Homo sapiens: one gene and its partners. The protein of the gene in region 3 purifies or fractionates together with the protein of the main gene of each other region. This does not show direct contact. Each region holds a gene or a part of one and is shown on either strand. Other genes may lie near its edges.

Region 1 (3,649 bases), on a different chromosome or scaffold from region 3:
CACTGTGACATGTTTGTGATGGCCATGACGCCCACACTGAAGGTTGTGGGTTTACTGGAATGAGGGCAAGGAACACCTGGTCCACCCAAGATGGAAAACCACTTAAGGCATTCCTAAGCCACAAACAATAGCATGAGCGATCTGTGCCTTAAGGACGTGTTCCTGCTGCAGATATCTAGCCAGAGCCCATCGCTTTGTTTTGGCCCATCCCTTTGTTTCCTGTAAGGAATACTTTTAGTTAATCTATAATCTACAGAAATAATGCTTATCACCGGCTTGCTGTCAATAAATACGTGGGTAAATCTCTGTTCAGGGCTCTCAGCTCTGAAGGCTGTGAATCCCCTGATTTCCCACTCCACACTCTATGTTTCTGTGTGTGTGTCTTTAATTCCTCTAGCACTGCTGGGTTAGGGTCTCCACGACCGAGCTGGTCTCGGCAAGTGGCGCCCAACGTGGGGACTCAAACCCAGGATGAAGGCTCGCTGGAGCAATGGTTGGAAAACGTGGAACAAAGCTGGAGGATACCCGAGTACTCTTAAGCAATCCCCATGGTGAGTAAGAAGGGGAGCTCGGAAGCATCAGGGTAACAATGGGCAAGTGTGGGCTCTAGCTCATTCCACCTTGGAACCTTTTCACACTAAAGATGAGGAGGAAGGAAAGTATAATGAAGTAACAGAAGAGGTGACAGAGCAGGTTTGTTTGCCAGCTAAAGCTAAAGTGGCAAAGGAGGGAGAGGTTTGTCCCTACCCTTCTGCACCCCCTCATTATTTCGAAGCAAAAGAGTAGCCTGATCCTCCAGATCTTTCTTTTCCAGAGGACACTGGGCAAAAAGTAGTCGCCCCAGTGACTGAGCAGCACCTCGAGCGACCACTCTCAGTTCTATTCAGCCAGGAATTCAGCAAGTTAGAAGAGAGGGTGATATAGAGGCTTAGCAGTTCCCTGTTAGAATATACCCCGTAGATCAACAGGGAAATATTATAGCTACATTTGAGCCTTTTCCTTTTAAATTACTCAAAGAATTTAAACAAGCTATTAATCCATATGGAACAGGTTCTCCTTTTGTAATGGGACTGTTAAAGAAGGTTGCTGTCTCCAGTCAGATGATGCCAGCGGGGATGGTAGGATTACTTCTAGGTAGGTCTAGTTTAAATTTAAAAGGCGTGCAAGTACAAACAGGAGTCATTGATTCAGATTACAAAGGGGAAATTCAAATTGTTATATCTACTTCTGTTCCCTGGAAAGCAGAGCCAGGAGAGCATATAGCACAGCTCCTGATTATGCCATATGTGGAAATGGGGAAAAGTGAAATTAAATGAACAGGAAGATTTGGAAGCACAAATAAACAAGGCAAAGCAGCTTATTGGGTGAATCAAATTACTGATAAACATCCTACTGGTGAAATAACTATTCAGGGAAAGAAATTTAAAAGTTTGGTAGATACAGGAGCGGACATTTCAATCATTTCTGTACAGCACTGGCCATCTGCATGGTCAATTCAACCTGCTCAATTTAACATAGTTGGAGTTGGTAAAGCCCTTAAAGTATATCAAAGTAGTTATATTTTGCATTGTGAAGGGCCCAATGGACAACCTGGGACTATACAAAAAATTATAACTTCTGTACCTATAAATTTATAGGGAAGAGATTTATTACAACAATGGGGATCACAAGTTCTAATTCCAGAATAATTATACAGCCCTCAAAGTCAACATATGATGCATGAAATGGGGTATGTCCCTGGTATGGGACTAGGAAAAAATTTGCAAGCTTTGAAGGAAATGCTTCAAGCGGAAAGACAAAGTTCCCACCAAGGTTTAGGATATCATTTTTGATGGTGGCCATTGTTAAGCCTCCAGAACCTATATACCTTTAAAATGGTTAACAGATAAGCCAATTTGGATAGCACAATGGCTGCTGAGTAAAGAGAAACTGGAGGCTTTAGAGGACTTAGTTGCTGAACAATTAGAAAAAGGACACATAGCTCAACATTTTCCCCTTGGAATTCTCCAGTTTTTGTAATTAAGAAAAAATCAGGTAAATGCAGAATGTTAACTGACTTAAGAGCCATTAATTCAGTTATACAACCTATGGGGACATTGCAGCCGGGACTGCCTTCTTCTGCTATGATTCCAAAAAATTGGCCTTTAATAGTCATAAATTTAAAAGACTGTTTCTTTACTATCCCCTTAGCTGAGCAAGGCTGTGAACTGTTTGCATTTACAATTCCTGCAGTAAAAAACCTGCAGCATACTAAAGCATTTGTATTGGAAAGTGTTGCTACAAGGCATGTGAAACAGTTCAAAAATTTGCCAGACTTATGAAGGGCAAGCAATTGAACCTACTCGTAAAAAATTTTCACAGTGTTACATTATTCATTATATGGATAATATACTTTGTGCTGCCCCCACTCAAGAAATATTACTCCAATGTTATGATCACTTGCAAAACTCGATTTCTCATGCCAGTTTAATTATATAGCTCCTGACAAAATTCAGACTACTACTCCTTACTCCTACTTGGGGACCTTAGTAAATGACACTACCATTGTGCCACAGAAAGTAACTATACGTAGGGATCAATTGAAAACATTAAATGACTTTCAAAAATTACTAGGGGACATTAATCGGATATGACCTGCTCTAGGCATTCCCACCTATGCCCTGAGTAATCTATTTTCTATCCTTAGAGGAGATCCTAGTCTCATTAGCCCTCAGCAATTAACAAAAGAAGCTGAGGCAGAGCTGCAGCTAATCAAAAAGCAAATCCATAAATCTCAAATAAATAGAATAGATCCAAAAAAGACCCTAGATTTGCTAATTTTTCCAACTCAGCATTCACTTACTGGTGTTATTGTATAAGAGCAAGACTTTGTACAGTGGCTTTTTCTTCCACATACTAATTCACAGACTCTAACTCCTTATTTGGATCAAATGGCTACGATGATAAGAAATGGGAGAATTCGGATTGTTAAATTACATGGATATGATCCTGGAAAAATTATTGTCCCTCTCACAAAGGCACAAATACAGCAAGCTTCTATAAATAGTCTTACTTGGCAAACCCATTTAGCTGACTTTGTGGGTATTCTTGATAATCATTTTCCTAAAATGAAATTATTTCAATTTTTGAAATTAACTAATTGGATTCTCCCCAAAATAACTAAATTTAAACCAACTGAAGGTGCTGAGAATGTTTTTACAGATGGGTCTTGTAATGGTAAAGCCTCTTATTCTGGATCAAAAGGTAAAGTTTTTCACACGCCCTATACTTCAGCTCAAAAAGTGGAGCTTTAGCTGTAATTGAGGTATTGACTGCTTTTGATATGCCTATTAATGTGATTTCTGATTCTTCCTATGTGGTTCATTCCATACAATTAATTGAAAATGCTCAGTTATGACTTCATACAGATGAACAACTGATGACTTTATTTACCCAATTGCAAACAGCATTTAGGAGTAGAATGCACCCTTTTTACATCACTCACATTAGGGCTCATACACCTCTTCCAGGACCTTTAACTGAAGGGAATCAAATGGCTGATCGCCTAGTTGCTACTGCAATATCTAATGCTAGACACTTTCACAATTTAACCCATGTTAATGCCTCTGGTCTCAAATGCAGATATAACAGTACCTGGAAAGAAGCTAAA
Region 2 (3,649 bases), on a different chromosome or scaffold from region 3:
TCTTTCCTTTTTACTATATACCCCTTCGGTAAAAAATGTTTGAGTGTGTCTCCCTAGTATATTTTTTATTTATAAATTATATTCTTGTACTACTGGGTAAATATATTTTTTAAATGCACAAAAAGAAGACTAAAAAACGACTCATTTATTGAATAAATATTTATTGATGCTTACCACATGTGAAATGCACTATTGTAGGCACCTGGGACACAATGGTGAACAAAACAGAAAATCCCTCGTGGACATTACGTTCTTGGGGAAGACAGAAAAATAGGATTGTAATAGGAGGTAATGAAAAGTGCTTTGAAGAAAAGTGAAGCCAAGAAAGGAGAAAAGGTCCTGGCATATTGGTGTTTTTAGATGGATGGTCAGGGAAGGTTTCTGTGAGGAATTGACATTTGAGCCAAGATCTGAATGAAATGAGAGCAAATTGCATGAACCTTTTGAGGAGAGACTTTTCCAGGGACAGCAGGCACAAAGGTCCTGAGATGCCAGTGTGCTTGGCAAGACTGAAGAGTGTGACAGAGGCCAGTGTGGCTGGGCATGGCAGAGAGGTGGAGAGTGGATCAGAGAGCAACCCGGGAGCTGGGTCATGTGGGATCTTACGGGCCATGGCCAGGATGTGGATTTTTTTTCCAGGTGTGACCAAGAGGCGTTGAATGGTTGAAAGGAAGGGCTTCAGCTGATTTAAATTGGAAGTTCTTTGGCTTCTGAGTGGAAAAGTAGATAACAAAGGATGAGCAATGGAATGGTGCAAGCACAAGCCCTGGGGTCGTAGTGGTGCTGAGAAGTAGTTAGGTCCAGAGTATATTTTCAAAGGAGAACGGCTTTTGCTGTTGTACTGTGAAAAAGTCATCAAGTCACAGGCCATCAGACTTTTGGCCTGTGTAACAAGGTGAATGTTGGTGACATTTAGTGATCTGAAGAAGCCATCACAGTTGGCAAGATGTTTAAAAATTAAATATCTAAAATATTAATAATTTTTAATTGAGAGCAAAAGGGTTTTTGAATTGCTATTAAATAGAAGTGTTGTTGATTTAGATTCATCTCATTCTTAACTAGCTTAGATTCCATCCATGAGGTCCACTGCTGCACTCTATAATGGACGCCCTCATCTATCTCCCTTGCCTTTTTCTCCTCAGTACTCTGGAAAAATCCCAGCCCTGGTTATTCTCTGCCTGCTCTTCACCTGAACATGAGTAACACAGTGTGGCTGGAGAAAAATGTATCCCCCTGCTAACTGGTCACACTTCAAATATGTGTTTACAAACGTTGTGTGGTGCTTAGCACCTCCGGCAGCTCTGCTCTATTTCCCTCAGGAATTCTCTCTCCTGCTCTCTGAAGCAGCTCACAACCTTGTTTTCCTTGAACTTTTAGTATCCCGTCTCTCTTTCCTTGTTCTTATCTGATTTTATTTTTCTTTTTTTTTAACTATGAAAATAGAAGCTGGTTAATAACAGAATTTCTTTCTTCATCTTCCTACCACCAGATCTATCTACCTACCTACCTGTCTGCCAATCTGCATCATACCCTGTAGTCTGCCATATCTCTTGTTACAAGGAAAAACTGGTCCTCTTCCTATTGGGCACAGTTTTCAAAGACTTTATTATCGGGGGAACCAGCCCCCAGTATTTCAACATAGGTTCTTTTCTATTTTCCCTAAGTGTCAGCCAGTCTGAGAAATAAAGAGAAAGAGTACAAAGAGAAATTTTACAGCTGGGCCTCTGGGGGTGACATCACTTGTTGACAGGTTCCGTGGTGCCCCTTGAGCTGCAAAACCAGCAAGTTTTTATTAGGGATTTCAAAAGGGGAGGGAGTGTACAAATAGGGAGTGGGTCACAGAGATCACATGCTTCAAAAGGCAATACGGTATCACAATGCAAATGGCAGAGCAAGATCACAAGGCCAGGGCAAAATTAGAATTACTGATGAGGTTCCATGTCCCGCTGGGCACGCACTGTCATTGATAAACATCTTAACAGGAAACAGGGTACGAGAGCAGACAACCAGTTTGACTAGAATTTGCCAGACTGGAATTTCCTAATCCTAGCAAGCCTGAGGGTGCTGCAGGAGACCAGGGTGTATTTCATCCCTTATCTTCAACTGCATAAGACAGACACTCCCAGAGCGGCCATTTTAGAGACCTCCCCCTGGGAATGCATTCCTTTCCCAGGGTTATTCCTTGCTGGGAAAAGAATTCAGTGATATTTCTCCTATTCGCTTTCTGCAAGAAGAGAAATATGACTCTCTTCTGCCCAGTCGCGCAGGCAGTCAGACATTATGGTTATCTCCCTTGTTCCCTGAAAATTGCTGTTATCCTCTTCCTTTTTTAGGATGCCCAGATTTCATATTGTTCAAAGACACATGTTTTACAGTTTGTACGGATAACTCAATCATCACAGGGTCCTGAGGCAACATACATCCTCAGCTTACAAAGATGACAGGATTAAGAGATTAAAGACAGGCATAGGAAATTATAACAGTATTGATTGGGGAAGTGATAAATGTCCATGAAATCTTCACAATTTATGTCCAGAGATTGCAGTAAAGACAGGTGTAAGAAATTATAAAAGTATTAATTTGGGGAACTAATAAATGTCCATGAAATCTTCACAGTTTATGTTCTTCTGCCGTGGCTTCAGCTGGTCCCTCTGTTCGGGGTCCCTGACTTCCTGTAACACTTTATGTTTACAATTACACATTATCTTGTTATCAAATTTCTCCTCTTTACTGGATTATTTCAATCAGCATTTAAATATGTGATATCTCCCATATTTTAAAAAAAGCTGCTTGATTCCACATACCCTTCCAACTACTCTACTTTTTGTGCCCCCTTTTTAGCAGCCTCCTTGGAAGAATTCTCATGACTCACTATCTCTGCTTCTTCACCTCCTACTCTATCTTAAACGCCTCCTATTGGGCTTTTGTTTTCCTCCCTCCTCCAATGAAACTACTCTGCTAAAGTCCCACCCTGTCAAATCCAGTCTTCATCTGAAAGCTTGCAGCATTCGATCCAGCTGACCACTTTCTCCTTTCTTTGCTCAGCTTCTACGTTGTCATCTTCTCGTAGTTTTCCTCCTGTCCACCAGCTTCACCCTGGAAGTCCTCGTCTCCTCCACTGCGTCTTTGTCCTCCCCACTCTAAATGCTTGAGGCCTCAGCGTTTAAGCTTTAGAACCTCAATAACCTCATTCAGGCATTAGGTTGCAGTAAAGTGAAAACGACTGAATGAATGAAGAGTGGTGCTGAGGCCCTCTCTGTGTGATGGAAACTTTCCCACAACCCCATCAGGATACCTGCTGTGTCCTGTCTTCAACACATGACCACTTAACATGGCCCAGGGAATGTCTCGTAGTCAGTCCATATAGTAACCGTTAACGGAACGTCATGTTTTTGTAAACATTAACATGGATAAAAGTTCTGATATTTACTTCCACCCTCAGTGGATCATTCTGCGCTTCCCTTAGGGGAAGACTACTTGGGAGACCACTGGGTTAGAAGATGGAACTTTGAGGGCCAGGCGCGGTGGGTCATGCCTGGAATCCCAAACCTCTGGGAGGCTGAGGTGGGCAGATCACTTGAGGTCGGGAGTTTGAGACCAGCCTGGCCAACATGGTGAAACCCTGTCTCTACTAAAAATACAAAAAATT
Region 3 (4,329 bases):
GATCTAAAGAGAAGAGCCTTGGAGAGAGGGGGCAAGAGACGGTATGAGAGCTGATACACAGAGGAGAGAGTACTAGTCTTTCTTCACCCAGCCACAGACTTGGCCACTTGGGAAAGTCACTCACGGATCCTCTCTTTCCTCTCTCTCACGTGTAAATACACAAGATGCCATCAGGGGCCTAGAGAATTTTGTGGAATAGGCCAAGTCCATTTCATTTTATCTTCCTACCCAAGGTCCTTTCAAAGACAGGGAGCCTAACTTCTCCTGGATTTCAACAAGCAGACATCTTTCAGAAAACAATATAGACTAATGCTTCCCCTTCAGTGGAAGGGAATTTAAGAATTAGGCCATAAAAAGGAACGAAGTACTGATATAAGCTACAGTGGGATGAACTTTGAAAATATTATGCTGTACAAAGGAAGCCAGTCACCAAAGACCACATACTATGTGATTCCATTCATATACAAGCCCAGAGTAGAGAAATCTATAGAGGCAAAGTAGATCTTAGGGCTGGGAGAGGAGAGGAGAATAAAAGGTTGATACCTAAAGCATACAAGGTTTCTTTCTGAGGTGATGAAAATGTCCCAAAATTGACTGTGGTGATGGCTACACATATCTGTAAAGATACTAAAAACCACTGAATTGTATGCTTTAAATGGATGAATTGTATGGCATGTGAATTATATCACAATAAAGCTGCTTTTAAAAGAAAAGAAGAACATACAGAAGGGTGGCTGGATGACTCCAAAGCCCACAGCACCTTGGCGAGCGGCATTGCTCTCACCACTGTGATCTTCCCCCATGGGTCCTTGTACTTCCAAACCTCAGGGAACCCGAGGGACTCCAGAGACCCAACTCTCAATTACAGCACCTGGAGTGGTGTCTCGCCACAGAAGACGCAGACAGCAAGACAGTTTGACAGCTCTAACCATTACAAACACCTGCAGAAGCTGCTACAGAGCCCATAAATAGCCCCAGGTTTGCCCACCGGACTAGGGTCCCCCTCTGAACTGGAGCTCGCCTTCCTAGCTCCTTCGGCTGTGTCCACTGGAGAGAGGTACACAGGACGCTGGAAAAGAGGAAAAGAGAGGCCATTTTCTCAGACTCTTCCACCCAAAGGCCCTCCCAGTTTGCGGTTTCCTGGACTCAGCAGCCCAGGGCCTGTTCCTGACCATGGAAGGAGGAGGCGGCTTCACTGGTTTATTATCTGGCCTCATCTCCCTCTCCCCCACAGCCCACCTACTCCAGCCACTCTGGCCTACTCCCTTTCCTTTAACGCACCACATACACTCATTGCTTGGAGCACTCTTCCCCAAAGAGCCTCCTCCCCCTGGAAATCTTGGCTCAAATGTGCCTTTCTCCACCCTGGCCACCTCATTTGAAAATCCTAACCCCAGTCTCCCTCACCCTTCTTTATCGTTTTCCCATAACACATGTCATACCAGAGATTTTCCTTATTAAGTGTATATTACCTGCTATTACTAGGCCTCCTTATTCACAACACAGCTTCTTTTAGCCTCCAGAGCCCAGCTGGAGAGCCAGGAGGCTGTGATTAACTACCTTCCCATCCCCTTTAATGAGCCTGTAGTACATGGAACAATCACTCCTGGCCTTTTCTACCTCTGCTTCCGAAGCACCCTTACCAGACCCTCAGAGGATCTGGGGAGAGCTGGCTCTTCATTCCAGTGTTTGCTCACCTCCTGTAAGAACAGTGCCTTCTCCTGGCCACCTAGATTTTCTTTTTCAAGGGGCACCTGCAACCTGTTTTCACAGGTTATCCCTACTAAAACATCATAAAGTGGGCTGGGAAAATACAAGTAAACCCATTTGTAAACACTGTAACTCTACCTCCTCTCATCTAGTAATTCCTTGTTTACTTATTGCTTTCCTCTACAGGACCATAAACTCCTGGAGAGCAGAGACTAGGTGTTTCCTGCCCACCATGGAGAACATATTAGGTGCACAGTATCCATTGGAGTGCAATAGTAAGGACTCATTAATTGTCTCCGTTATCATCATTATGTGGCTTGTCCTGGATCTCCGTCAGTGAGCGACTTGCCAAGTGTGTACACCCATGAACCAGAAGGCAACCCAAGACCAGCCAGAAAAGACGCTTGGCACCCTTTGATGAGTACATTTACCCAGTGACCGCCAACTCTCCCCATTCCCCAAAGTTCTGCAAAGGACGCAGGAAAAGTAAAGTTCAAGGAATAGTGTTCCTAGATCCCTAGCAAAGTTCTAGACCCAAAACACAAAGCCTGGGAGGGGTGGAGGAACGGGGCTTGGGGAACTGTCCCAAGGGCCTCCCCGGCTGATCTCTCCGCACCACCTAGGACTGCCTGAGCGCCCCCTGTGGGTCCACGGAGCCCAGGAGACGCGTTTGGCCCTGTAGACCATCCACATCGCCCGCCCTCCGCTTCTCTCAACTCGCCTCTCGCTTCAGAGTCGGAGGGACAGGGGAAGCGACGCTCAGACACTCCTAGGGCCAGAGGTGGAGGGAGCGAAGGAGACCCTGAAGAAGTGGGAGGGGGTCGGGCCAGGCAGGGGCTGAAGAGAATCGCGCCACAGGCTGGGACGGGAAACGTGGGAAAGTTGGAGTGGGAAGTTTGCGACAGGGAACATAGAAAAGAGCAGAAAGAGGGCAAGATCCCCGCACAGAGGACGCAAACAGAAGCAAGCGGGGGAGCGCGCCTCAAGGGATGCGGGGTACGAGAGAGGGGCCGGGAGCCCGGGGACCCGCGGCGCCTGCCTACCCACCTGAGGCTGCCATGCCGCGGGGCGCCGCTCACATCCCTGGCTCGCTGCGTGCCCGGGGCCGGGACCGGGGCCGGCGGCGTCCTGGCTCGGGCTGGAGGGGCGCCGGGCTCCGCGCGGGACCGGCCGCCGCTCTGGCGCTTCCTCCCTCAGGGCAGCCCGGCCTCGCCACGAGGGCGTGTCCACAGAGTCCGCCCCGCCTGCGGGACTCGGCCCGCGGCACCTGCACCCGCGGCCGTTGGGGAGGGGAAGTGAGAACCCCATGCCGGCCGCCGGCCAGCTCCCCCCACGGCCCCCTGCTCAGGGGCAGCGAGAAGGCGGGGGCTTCGCGCCACGTGCGCCCCACTCCTCGGGAAACCAGCCCTGATCTGCCACCAAAGGGCAGCCCGAGGTGGAGGGGGTGTGGGGAGGAGGCGGAGGGGGAGAGTGTGGGGCTGCCAGGCCTCTGGGAGACAGGGCGGGGGTGTGTGTGTGTGTGAGCACCAGCTGTCCAAGCCACCTCCTCATCGCCTGGGGCTTTGTCCCTAAGCCCCTGCTGCCCCAGCAGGAAAGGGGAGGGGACAGGAAGGGGAAGAGGAGGAGGGCTGGGCACCTGGCCCTGGGTGCTCGGCGTTGCCCTTGAGTGCCCTCCTGTGATCTTTCTGCCGTTCCTTGGATCTGGTCTCCTGATGGCACATGAACATTAATTATAATGTCACATGATAAATGTCTAATAGAGTTTCTCTGCCATTCATTTCCTGTGTTCCTGTCTGCTGGGCGCTGCGTTTAGCACCTTACACACATTATCGCATTGCATCCTCACAGCAACCTTCTGAGGTAGCACCTATCACTGTCTTTACATTGGAGCCAAAGAAACAAGCCAAATACCTTGCTCAGGCTTCCACAGAGAACAAAAGCTCCCGGAGGTTCAGTACCAAGCCAGTCTGCTTCCAGAGCTAGAACTCTTGCTTAACCCTTGCCTTCACCTGCCCTCTTCTTGGACTCCTCCCTTTGCCTGCTGCCGAAATTCAACTGAATAGCACATCCCCTTGGAGTTCTCAACAATCCAGGGGCCAGAAGATGGACCCAGAGAGCAGAGATGAGGCAAGGTTAGGGCTGAAGTCCAGGTGGAAATAAAATGAAATGGATTTAAGAACGGGAATATCAGGATGAGGCCGTGCATTCATTTTCTTCTGTTGCCATAATAAATTACTACAAATTTAGTGGCTTAAAACAACACCAACTTATCATTTTACAGTTCTGTAGCTCAGAAGTGTGACATGAGTCTCCATCGGCTAAAATCAAGGTGGTGGCTGGGCTGGGTTTCTTTCTGCCAAATAGAAGGGAATCAATTTCCTTGGCTCTTTCAGCTTCTAGAAGCCATCCACATTCCTTGGCTCATGGCCTCCTTGTTCTATCTTCAAAGCCAGATGGCCCTGCTTCTGTCATCATATCCCTTTCTCTGACTCTCTTCTGTCTCCCTCTTCCAGTTTTAAGGATCCTAGTGGCCGGGCGCGGTGGCTCACGCCTGTAATCCCAGCACTTTGGGAGGCCGAGGCGGGCGGATCACGAGGTCAGGAGATCGAGACCATCCCA

Evidence for each region.
Region 1: the proteins of PIK3AP1 (region 3) and TLR2 purify together in Homo sapiens (affinity purification with western blotting, with the first as the bait; one study listed by BioGRID). This does not show direct contact.
Region 2: the proteins of PIK3AP1 (region 3) and SCCPDH purify together in Homo sapiens (co-immunoprecipitation; one large-scale study listed by IntAct). This does not show direct contact.

Annotation. Positions count from the first base shown.
Region 1 is NC_000004.12:153,690,709-153,694,357, reverse strand, and holds part of TLR2 (toll-like receptor 2 precursor), read right to left. Parts: intron 1-3,649. UniProt on the Homo sapiens protein: Cooperates with LY96 to mediate the innate immune response to bacterial lipoproteins and other microbial cell wall components. Cooperates with TLR1 or TLR6 to mediate the innate immune response to bacterial lipoproteins or lipopeptides.
Region 2 is NC_000001.11:246,727,264-246,730,912, forward strand, and holds part of SCCPDH (saccharopine dehydrogenase-like oxidoreductase), read left to right. Parts: intron 1-3,649.
Region 3 is NC_000010.11:96,717,625-96,721,953, forward strand, and holds the start of PIK3AP1 (phosphoinositide 3-kinase adapter protein 1), read right to left. Parts: upstream 2,891-4,329; 5' UTR 2,771-2,890; coding exon 2,758-2,770; intron 1,070-2,757; exon of another isoform or gene 989-1,069; intron 1-988. UniProt on the Homo sapiens protein: Signaling adapter that contributes to B-cell development by linking B-cell receptor (BCR) signaling to the phosphoinositide 3-kinase (PI3K)-Akt signaling pathway.